Homo sapiens: one gene and its partners. The protein of the gene in region 1 purifies or fractionates together with the protein of each later gene. This does not show direct contact. Each region holds a gene or a part of one and is shown on either strand. Other genes may lie near its edges.

Evidence for each region.
Region 2: the proteins of HBEGF (region 1) and OCLN purify together in Homo sapiens (affinity purification with mass spectrometry; one large-scale study listed by BioGRID and IntAct). This does not show direct contact.
Region 3: the proteins of HBEGF (region 1) and GPC4 purify together in Homo sapiens (affinity purification with mass spectrometry; one large-scale study listed by BioGRID and IntAct). This does not show direct contact.

Annotation. Positions count from the first base shown.
Region 1 is NC_000005.10:140,332,343-140,336,603, reverse strand, and holds the end of HBEGF (proheparin-binding EGF-like growth factor precursor), read left to right. Parts: intron 1-576; coding exon 577-732; intron 733-1,855; coding exon 1,856-1,928; 3' UTR 1,929-1,946; intron 1,947-2,323; 3' UTR 2,324-3,761; downstream 3,762-4,261. UniProt on the Homo sapiens protein: Growth factor that mediates its effects via EGFR, ERBB2 and ERBB4. Required for normal cardiac valve formation and normal heart function. Promotes smooth muscle cell proliferation. May be involved in macrophage-mediated cellular proliferation.
Region 2 is NC_000005.10:69,506,290-69,509,789, forward strand, and holds part of OCLN (occludin), read left to right. Parts: intron 1-2,851; coding exon 2,852-3,500. UniProt on the Homo sapiens protein: May play a role in the formation and regulation of the tight junction (TJ) paracellular permeability barrier.
Region 3 is NC_000023.11:133,405,490-133,408,989, reverse strand, and holds part of GPC4 (glypican-4 precursor), read left to right. Parts: intron 1-3,500. UniProt on the Homo sapiens protein: Cell surface proteoglycan that bears heparan sulfate. May be involved in the development of kidney tubules and of the central nervous system.

The sequences.
Region 1 (4,261 bases):
TGGAGTTAAATGAAGGAAACTTGAGAAAAACGACTCCTGGCAGAGGCACAGGGCCTATTAATAGGCTGGACAGCAGTGGAGAGGGACTGGACGCTGGAAGCACGATGGGGAAGGCTGGGTTTATTTCTGGGTCAGAATGTTGAGGGGCCTCACTGGAGGGAGTGATACGAATTCCCTCAATTTAGCCTACCAGCTCTTGTGCCCAAGCCCTCATAAGTGGCTTAAACAGAACGCCTGAACACACATGTCATAAATCAGCCACACGTGGAACATATCTAGCTGAGGCCTTCAAGTCCTCCCTTGCTTTTTCCATGCCTAGAACAGGATTCTCAGCCCAGAGAACCAGAGGAAATGGAAAAGGGGAGGGTGTCAAGTGAGAGAGGAATGCTACAGAGCTTTCAGAGGGGCTTTAAAGAGTTTTCTACTAGAGGAGAAGGATGGAGGATGGGCAGGGATCGTGGTCAGGGATTGACAGGCTGAGGGTATGAGGAATGGGGTTTGGCTTATGCAGGTGGGCCATTGCCAAGAGAGGCCAAAGCACTAACTCCATCTCCTTCTTGTTCTGTCTTGAACTAGCTGCCACCCGGGTTACCATGGAGAGAGGTGTCATGGGCTGAGCCTCCCAGTGGAAAATCGCTTATATACCTATGACCACACAACCATCCTGGCCGTGGTGGCTGTGGTGCTGTCATCTGTCTGTCTGCTGGTCATCGTGGGGCTTCTCATGTTTAGGTGAGTGTTGGGGTCCCCTGCAGGCTGTTTCTGCAAATCACTCCCTTTCTTCCTCCTCCTGGGCCCTCTCCTTGATGGTCACATGCACTTCCCTCAATCTTTCCAAATCATGGGCTAGCTCCGGGGTGTAGATTCTCCAAAAACCTGGTATTTCTGGCATGACATGAGTCCTGTGTCTAGAGCCCAGGGTCAAATTTGCGAGGCCATAGCAGGTTCTGCTCCTCACAGGAGTTCTTTTCCTGCCTCCATGACCCAGCTACCCACTCATGGAGTCACTTTGTCACACATTTCTTTCTCCTGGCTGTTCTTTGATGGCATTAGTATGTGGTTTGGTAGTCAAGGTGTGGGTGGTGCTAGTGGTATATCCTTCCACTTCTGAGGCGTCTGGACCTCAGGCCCTGCTTTCTAATCCAGGTATGCTCTAGCTTGGGAGACCCACCAAGCACTCTATGCCTGTTTTCTTTCTTTCTTTTTTTTTTTTTTTTTTTGAGACAGAGTCTTGCTCTGTCGCCCAGGCTGGAGTGCAGTGGTGTGATCTCGGCTCACTGCAAACTCCGCCTCCTGGGTTCACGCCATTCTCCTGCCTCAGCCTCCTGAGTAGCTGGGACTACAGGCACCCGCCACCACACCCAGCTAATTTTTTCTATTTTTTAGTAGAGACGGGGTTTCACCATGTTAGCCAGGATGGTCTCGATCTCCTGACCTCGTGATCTGCCCGCCTCGGCCTCCCAAAGTGCTGGGATTACAGGCATGAGCCACCGTGCCTAGCTCTATGCCTGTTTTCAAGCAGTGTAACTCATCTGTCATGAGACCTGGAACAAGTTACTGTCTTTCTGAGGATTGTAACCTTGTAGTGATTGTAATGTTTGTCCATCTACCTCATAAGGATGTTGTGAGGATCACGTAAATGAGGTGAAAGCTATTTGTAAATTGCATCCTGCTATTAGAGACAGGAGTTCCTCGGGGCAGTTGGGCCTTTGACCAGAGTTTGGGCTGCCCTACTGCCTGGGCTTTTCCAAGTAGTAGAGGAAACCACCATGGCAGAGTTCTTTGGAAGGACCTGCTCTGGACCTGCACTTTGTCATAGCAGGCAGGGCTTATTCACAAAACTTATCTTCCTCAGGTACCATAGGAGAGGAGGTTATGATGTGGAAAATGAAGAGAAAGTGAAGTTGGGCATGACTAATTCCCACTGAGAGAGACTTGTGCTCAAGGTAACGCTCCATCCTTTGCCCCATGACATGATTATCCTTTGTCCCCTTTCCTGGCTGTGCTTCAGTGGGTGCTGAATTCTTCATATAGGGGTTGGGGGCCAGGCTACTGTGACATTAATATCCCATTGCAGAATTATTTTCAAAAAGACTCAGTGCTTCACTTAAGGTAAAAGTTGCTAGAGAGACACCTAAGAGAGATGCCTGAGAGGACAGCTTCTCCCACCCTCATCCCCTCCCTTCCCCTCCCCTCTCCTCCCCTGGGAGACAGAGTGAAACCCTGTCTCAAAAAGTTTAAAAATAAAAAAGACTGGACCAGGAAAATCTTAAGACTTCTTTAGACTGGACCTGGCTTTACATGCCTTCCTTTTGTGCTTTAGGAATCGGCTGGGGACTGCTACCTCTGAGAAGACACAAGGTGATTTCAGACTGCAGAGGGGAAAGACTTCCATCTAGTCACAAAGACTCCTTCGTCCCCAGTTGCCGTCTAGGATTGGGCCTCCCATAATTGCTTTGCCAAAATACCAGAGCCTTCAAGTGCCAAACAGAGTATGTCCGATGGTATCTGGGTAAGAAGAAAGCAAAAGCAAGGGACCTTCATGCCCTTCTGATTCCCCTCCACCAAACCCCACTTCCCCTCATAAGTTTGTTTAAACACTTATCTTCTGGATTAGAATGCCGGTTAAATTCCATATGCTCCAGGATCTTTGACTGAAAAAAAAAAAGAAGAAGAAGAAGGAGAGCAAGAAGGAAAGATTTGTGAACTGGAAGAAAGCAACAAAGATTGAGAAGCCATGTACTCAAGTACCACCAAGGGATCTGCCATTGGGACCCTCCAGTGCTGGATTTGATGAGTTAACTGTGAAATACCACAAGCCTGAGAACTGAATTTTGGGACTTCTACCCAGATGGAAAAATAACAACTATTTTTGTTGTTGTTGTTTGTAAATGCCTCTTAAATTATATATTTATTTTATTCTATGTATGTTAATTTATTTAGTTTTTAACAATCTAACAATAATATTTCAAGTGCCTAGACTGTTACTTTGGCAATTTCCTGGCCCTCCACTCCTCATCCCCACAATCTGGCTTAGTGCCACCCACCTTTGCCACAAAGCTAGGATGGTTCTGTGACCCATCTGTAGTAATTTATTGTCTGTCTACATTTCTGCAGATCTTCCGTGGTCAGAGTGCCACTGCGGGAGCTCTGTATGGTCAGGATGTAGGGGTTAACTTGGTCAGAGCCACTCTATGAGTTGGACTTCAGTCTTGCCTAGGCGATTTTGTCTACCATTTGTGTTTTGAAAGCCCAAGGTGCTGATGTCAAAGTGTAACAGATATCAGTGTCTCCCCGTGTCCTCTCCCTGCCAAGTCTCAGAAGAGGTTGGGCTTCCATGCCTGTAGCTTTCCTGGTCCCTCACCCCCATGGCCCCAGGCCCACAGCGTGGGAACTCACTTTCCCTTGTGTCAAGACATTTCTCTAACTCCTGCCATTCTTCTGGTGCTACTCCATGCAGGGGTCAGTGCAGCAGAGGACAGTCTGGAGAAGGTATTAGCAAAGCAAAAGGCTGAGAAGGAACAGGGAACATTGGAGCTGACTGTTCTTGGTAACTGATTACCTGCCAATTGCTACCGAGAAGGTTGGAGGTGGGGAAGGCTTTGTATAATCCCACCCACCTCACCAAAACGATGAAGTTATGCTGTCATGGTCCTTTCTGGAAGTTTCTGGTGCCATTTCTGAACTGTTACAACTTGTATTTCCAAACCTGGTTCATATTTATACTTTGCAATCCAAATAAAGATAACCCTTATTCCATAGCCTTTTGTCTGTTTGTTTTAACCGGGAACTGGTTTAACTTAGTTATTTCCTAAGCCCTGACTTGGTGGTAGGCTCTATACCAGGCCTATTTATGTATACTACCACAACAATTCTGCGATGCAGGTACTATTACTGTCCCATTTTTCCAGAAGGGGAAACTGAGGCTCAAAGTGGTTGTGTAACTTGCCTGAGGATACACAGCTAGTAAATGACAGAGCTGGGACTAGTAGTCTGGCTCCAATTATTTTGTCTTAGTACTTATACCATGCTATCTCTGAGATAAGAAAGAACAGATCTTTCGCACAGCATGTTTAGCTGGCTGTAATCAGGGAAGATATCCACCCATTCAGTCAACAGGCCCTGGACTCAGGATCTACTCCTATGCTGCACATATGAGCAGGCATTGCTTCTGGCAAGAACAAGATGTCTTTGACTACCCTATCTTGCTCCACAGCCAATCCATCAGCAAATCTTGTCAGCCCTACCTTTAGAATACATG
Region 2 (3,500 bases), about 71 Mb from region 1:
TGAATGAATGAACAAACAAATGATATTACAATGGATGCCAACAAACACCAGATGAAGAGGTGGACAGGGCGAGGTATGTGGGAAGCAGCCCTCCCTGGTTGTGCCACCCTCCAGGAACTTGCACATGTTCAGCTGTCCAGAAGTTCTGTGAATTCGGTCCTTTTGGGTTTTTATGGAAGCTTTATGACATAGGCATGATTGACTAAATCATTGGCCATTGGTGAGCAGTTTAAGCTTCAGCCCCTCTTTCCTGTCCAGAGAGGGTTGGGGCTGAAAAGTTCCAACCCTCTAATCCTAGCTCCCATCCTGAAGCTTCCTAGGGCTGCCAGGAACCTATCATCTCATTAGCATATAAGGGATACTTATCACTTTGGAGAGTCCAAAGATTTTAGGAGTTGTATGCCAGAAAATGGAGATGAAGACTAAATACATATTTTACAATATCACGTGAAGGTTGTGTTCCAGTTCTTTAACCTCCTTACTAGTGCCTAAAACATGGTGGGGACACAAGTTGTTTATGACAATACAGTTTTTAAAACATACTAGAGAATATAGTAATTGAGTAATGCACCACTAATCTGACACTTATTTTGTGTTGCTTTTGTAAATAATGGTGAACTGCAACATACATAAAGAAAAGGACACAGAACATATGTAGGAGATCATGAGGAAAGACCAAGCAAACATACATACTCATCACCCAGGTCAAGAAACAGAACACTTCAAAGTCCTTCCCTGTGTCCTCTCCTTTTCTCTGGAGACCACTGTCCTGACGTATGATCATTACCTGCTTTTATCATTTTATCATCTTGTATATCCTAAACATTTCAGTTTAGTTTTACCTGTTTTATTTATTTATTTTTGAGACAGACTCTCACTTTGTTGCCCAGGCTGGAGTGCAGTGGCACAATCTTGGCTCACTGCAACCTCCACTTCCTGGATTCAAGCAATTCTCCTGCCTCAGCCTCCCAAGTAGATGGGATTACAGGTAACCACCACAATGCACAACCAATTTTTATGCTTTTAGTAGAGACGGGGTTTCGCCATGTTGGCCAGGCTGGTCTCAAATTCCTGACCTCAGGTGACCCGCCCACCTCCTAAAGTGCTGGGATTATAGGTGTGAGCCACCACATCTGGCCAGTTTTACCTGTTTTAAAACTTTATGTAAATATAATAATGCGATATGTATTTTTTCATTTTTTTCAGCATTACCTGTAACTGCATGTATTCATAGTTCATCAGTTTTGGCTTCATAGCACTGTAGAAATATAACATGAGCCATATATGTAATTTTATACTTTCATTAAAAATAAAAAGATAATTTTTTTTTTTTAAGACAGAGTTTTGCTCTTTTTGCCCAGGCTGGAGTGCAATGGCACGGTCTCGGCTTACTGCAACCTCCACCTCCTGGGTTCAAGTGATTCTCCTGCCTCAGCCTCCCAAGTAGCTGGGATTACAAGCACACACCACCACGCCCAACTAGTTTTTGTATTTTCAGTAGAGATGGGGTTTCACCAGGATAGCCAGGCCGGTCTCGAACTCCTGACCTCAGGTGATCCACCCGCCTCGGCCTCCCAGAGTGCTGGGATTACAGGCGTGAGCCACCGTGCCTGGCCAAAAGAAGAAATTAATTTTAATATATTTCACTTAATCTTGTATATCTAAAACATTACTTCATCACGTGATTGATGTAAAAAATGAATGATTCAGGAAATATTTTACATTCTTTCTTCATATTATATCTTTGAAATCCATTGTGCATTTTTAAATTTTTTTGCCCTGTCACCCAGGCTGGAGTGCAGTGGGTGTGATCGCAGCTCACTGCAACCTCTGCCTCCTGGGTTCAAGGGATTCTTGATTTTCGTGCCTCAGCCTCCCAAGTAAGTGGGATTACAGGCATGTGTCACCATGCCTGGCTAATTTTTGTATTTTTAGTAGAGATAGGGTTTTACCATGTTCTCCAGGCTGGTCTCAAACTCCTGGCCTCAAGTGATCTGCCCACCTCAGACTCTCCACTGTGCATTTTAACAGCGTATCTCAGTTTGGACTAGCCACATTTCTTTTTTTTTGAGACGGAGTCTTGCTCTGTCACTCAGGGTAGAGTGCAATGGCACGATCTCGGCTCACTGCAACCTCCACCTCCCGGGTTCAAGCAATTCTCGTGCCTCAGCCTCCTGAGTAGCTGGGATTACAGGCGCATGCCACCACGTCTGGCTAATTTTTGTATTTTTAGTAGAGATGGGGTTTCACCATGTTGGCCAGGCTGGTCTTGAACCCCTGACCTCAAGTGATCCACCCGCCTTGGCCTCCCAAAGTGCTGGGATTACAGACATGAGCCACCGTGCCCAGCCGGACTAGATACATTTCAAGTGTATGATAGACCCAAGTGGCTAGTGGCTGCCACATTGGACAGTATAGCTATGGAGTATTCCATTGTATGGATATATTACAGTTACCCATTCCACTGTAGGTAATTGGTACAATCACTTTGGAAAACAGTTTGATACTGTCTAGTGAAGTTGAAGATATAAAAATATGTGATCCAGAAATTCTCCTGGTTATATACCCTAGAAAAATAAGTACTGTTCCGTACCAGAATACACATTCAAGGATGTTTATAGTTAAACTGTTTACAATACCCCCAAACAGAGATAACCCAAATGTCTGAGCAGAATGGGTTGTGGCTAGAGGCCAATAATCTTATGTTTTAACAAGCCCTCCAGGTGATTCCTGTGCACAGATAAGCTTTAGTTTCATTTACCCAATGGTTTAAATTATTCCAAATAAGTTGTGTTCTTTCTGCTTACTACCAAAAAATGCTAACTTGAAATTATTTTCATGTTCATTTCAGCAAACCGAATCATTATGCACCAAGCAATGACATATATGGTGGAGAGATGCATGTTCGACCAATGCTCTCTCAGCCAGCCTACTCTTTTTACCCAGAAGATGAAATTCTTCACTTCTACAAATGGACCTCTCCTCCAGGAGTGATTCGGATCCTGTCTATGCTCATTATTGTGATGTGCATTGCCATCTTTGCCTGTGTGGCCTCCACGCTTGCCTGGGACAGAGGCTATGGAACTTCCCTTTTAGGAGGTAGTGTAGGCTACCCTTATGGAGGAAGTGGCTTTGGTAGCTACGGAAGTGGCTATGGCTATGGCTATGGTTATGGCTATGGCTACGGAGGCTATACAGACCCAAGAGCAGCAAAGGGCTTCATGTTGGCCATGGCTGCCTTTTGTTTCATTGCCGCGTTGGTGATCTTTGTTACCAGTGTTATAAGATCTGAAATGTCCAGAACAAGAAGATACTACTTAAGTGTGATAATAGTGAGTGCTATCCTGGGCATCATGGTGTTTATTGCCACAATTGTCTATATAATGGGAGTGAACCCAACTGCTCAGTCTTCTGGATCTCTATATGGTTCACAAATATATGCCCTCTGCAACCAATTTTATACACCTGCAGCTACTGGACTCTACGTGGATCAGTATTTG
Region 3 (3,500 bases), on another chromosome or scaffold:
AGAGACGTGGTTTCACCATGTTGGCCAGGCTGGTCTAGAACTCCTGACCTCAAATGATCCAGCCTCCCAAAGTGCTGGAATTACAGGCATGAACCACCATTCCAGGCCTGTATCTAAACACTTTGAAGTGAAATAAATTTAAAGTAAATATGCATATGTTGGTATAGCTTGGAGAACGTTTTTATTCTTTTGGGGGAGTACTTGTCTTTACCACTTCATTAATAACTGAATGCTTATAGGATTTTTTTTTATTTTTTGAAACAGAGTTTCGCTCTTGTTGCCCAGGCTGGAGTGCAATGGCACGATCTCAGCTCTCCGCAACCTCCGCCTCTGGTTCAAGCCATTCTCCTGCCTCAGCCTCCAGAGTAGCTGGGATTACAGGCATGCACCACCATGCCCGGCTAATTTTGTATTTTTAGTAGAGATGGAGTTTTTCCATGTTAGTCAGGCTGGTCTTGAACTCCTGACCTCAGGTGATCCACCTCGGCCTCCCAAAGTGCTGGGATTACAGGCATGAGCTACTGCACTGGCCAGGAATTTTTCAGAAAGATTCAGAATTGTTTTTCTTAATGCCTTGAGATACACTTCTTTAAAGAATGAACAGTTGAGACTGTTGTGATTAGGCAATTTAGAGCAAATTTACCACATGCAACTGTTCAGTGTGCATCAGTTACCTTTTAACATAAAAAAACTCAAGTTTATTGTCTTTACCAAGAAGAACACAAGCTTTGAAGGGTATCAGAATATTTTATATAAATAAACAGACATACTAAAATACAAACAGGTAAAAACTAGCATTTTCAAATCTACTTGGTTAAACATCTGTTGCTTACTATAGAGAACATGAAAGTGCAGAAAATGCATGAAGCGATTCCATCCTGGAGGTAATTTGAAATATTATGTTTAAGTTCTGATGCATTTAATTCAGCAATCTGGTGGGAGAGAAAAATCAAAGAGCTGCATCAGCCAGGTATTCAACTTTTGAGAAAGAAACTCTAACAAATGTTAGAAATTAGGGGAAAAAACTGAATGGGAGAGTTAAAAAAGTCAATAACCTCCAGGAAGCCTGGAAACTATGTAAAAACATCTTATTGGAAGCCCAGATAAATGTGTGCCAGACATCAAAAAGACCAACTGCTCGGGGGAAGAAAAAAAGAACCCGGCATGACTAACTGGCAGAGTAAAAGAGGCTGCTTCAGGGAAAAAGGCATCTTTCACAAAATACAAAGAGTTTAAGCCAGAAGAGGGAAGTCCACTAGGTTTCACAAGGCCCAGGTACAAACTAGAAATTAAGTGGGCTGACAGAGAATTGAAGTTGAATCTTGCAAGGGATTTGAAAGATGGCATGTGTGATAATAATGGTGAAAAGGGTGGGTTGAGTCCAACCTATCTAGGGAGAAGCAATATGGCTTCTTTAAGGGTAAACCATGCCTGATTGATCTCTCGGGATTCTTTGTGTGGAAAAAAAAGCATGAGGATACAGGGAAGCAGACATACATCATTTAGGTTTTTAAAAATTATGCAATGGGATTCTAAGGCAAAGAATATTCAGAAAATATATTTACTTTGAGATAGGTGGGGATAGTTGGACAGAGAGGGAGAGTGAGGGAGGGAAGAGACTCCACTGTTGTAGATGGAGTAGTTTACATGGAGAAGACATGGCTTGTTAGGATGAGTAGTTCTAGCCTAACTCTGGCAAATTTGTTGTCAAATACCTTTGGTGAGGTTCTTCCCTCTTTGAAAAATGGGGTGAAATTGAACCACCTGGCACCTGAGGAGCTTTTAAAATATACTAATGCCTGGGTACCACCCCATACCAATGAAATAATACTTTTTTCAGGAAGGACTAGGCCATGATGGATGGATGGATGGATGGATGAATGTGTGTGTGTGTGTGTGTATTTTTTTTTTTTGAGATGGAGTCTTGCTCTTGTCACCCAGGCTGGCGTGCAATGGCGTGATCTCAACTTACTACAGCCTCCACTTCCTGGGTTCAAGCGATCCTTCTGCCTCAGCTTCCCGAGTAGCTGGGACTACAGGTGTGTGCTGCCACACCCGGCTGGTTTTTTGTATGTTTAGTAGAGATGGGGATTCACCATGTTGGCCAGGCTGGTCTTGAACTCCTGGCCTCAAGTGATCCACCCACCTTGGCCTCCCAAAGTATTGGTATTACAGGCGTGAGCCACTGTGCCTGGCCCATGGTAGTTTTTTTTAATTTTCTTTTTTTTTTTTTTTTTTTTTTGAGACGAAGTCTTGCTCTGTTGCCAAGGCTGGGTGCAATGGCATGATCTCCACTCACTGCAACCTCCGCCTCCTGGGTTCAAGTGATTCTCCTGCTTCAGCCTCCTGAGTAGCTGGAATTACAGGAGCACACCACCACTCCTGGCTAATTTTTTATATTTTTAGTAGAGACAGGGTTTCACCATGTTGGCCAGGCTGGTCTCGAACTCCTGACCTCGTGATCCGCCCGCCTCGGCCTCCCAAAGTGCTGGGATTACAGGCGTGAGCCAGCATGCCTGGCCTAGGTCCCTTCCATCTCTGAGATTCTATTATTCTAAATTTTCCAATGAGATTCATCACAAAATGTTGTTTGAGATAAAGCCTTTAGTTTAGAATCAGTGCATGGTTGTTTTAATTTTGGCTAACTTGGATTTAAGAGAAAGGTGTGTCAAACATGGAGGAAAATGTTTTCAATCAAGATATAAGTGTGAACCACAACTGAGTGCTGCTTTGCTGCAGGTAGAGACATAAGACAAGCACAATGAGAATACTTTGGAAAGAATTAGAACAGAATCCAGCCTTGCTGTCATTTATTGATTAAGTGTCAACATGCTAGGTGATATTTCTTCCCTTTTTCTTTATTGGTAAAATTAAAATAAATCTCTTTATCCCTTACTTTAATGTCCTCTTTGCCATGTGTTTATTCTCTTCAAGTATCTTATCAAGAAATAGAAGTACAGTAAATCCCTAGGCTTCTAGCTGGTGCAACCATCCAGAACACAGCTGGGAATGTGGAAGTAAGCAGAAAAGCCAAATGATGGAAACAGCTGTCATAAAGCCCATGCATTCTATGTGGAGAAAAGGCCTTCAGAAATTTATTATCAGCAATCATTGAATGGCTCCTGTATCCAGAGCAGTATGCTGGGTGCAGGGGATTCCAAGAGGTGTCAAGCAGGAATCAAGCTTTTGAGGAACTTGCATTCAAATTAGGTAGATAGGGTTTATACGTGAGAAGATAAAATGCTTTGGTTATCCAGTTTCCCAGTCTATGGCAGATTAGAAGTAGCAAATGGTATTGGTTGGGGGCCGATGGGAATCACAGGAAGGGATCGTGTTAGAGGCAGGTAAGACTTGACATCTGGAAGAAGTGAGAGAGGACAGTTGGAGGGTGACCAGAAGCTGAATGGGAGAGCCAGAACTTGCTGATCTTGGCAGTTTGAGATCTCCTAGAATGGGCGAATGCTCAAAGCCACCTTTGTAACCATAATCATCGAGGGCAC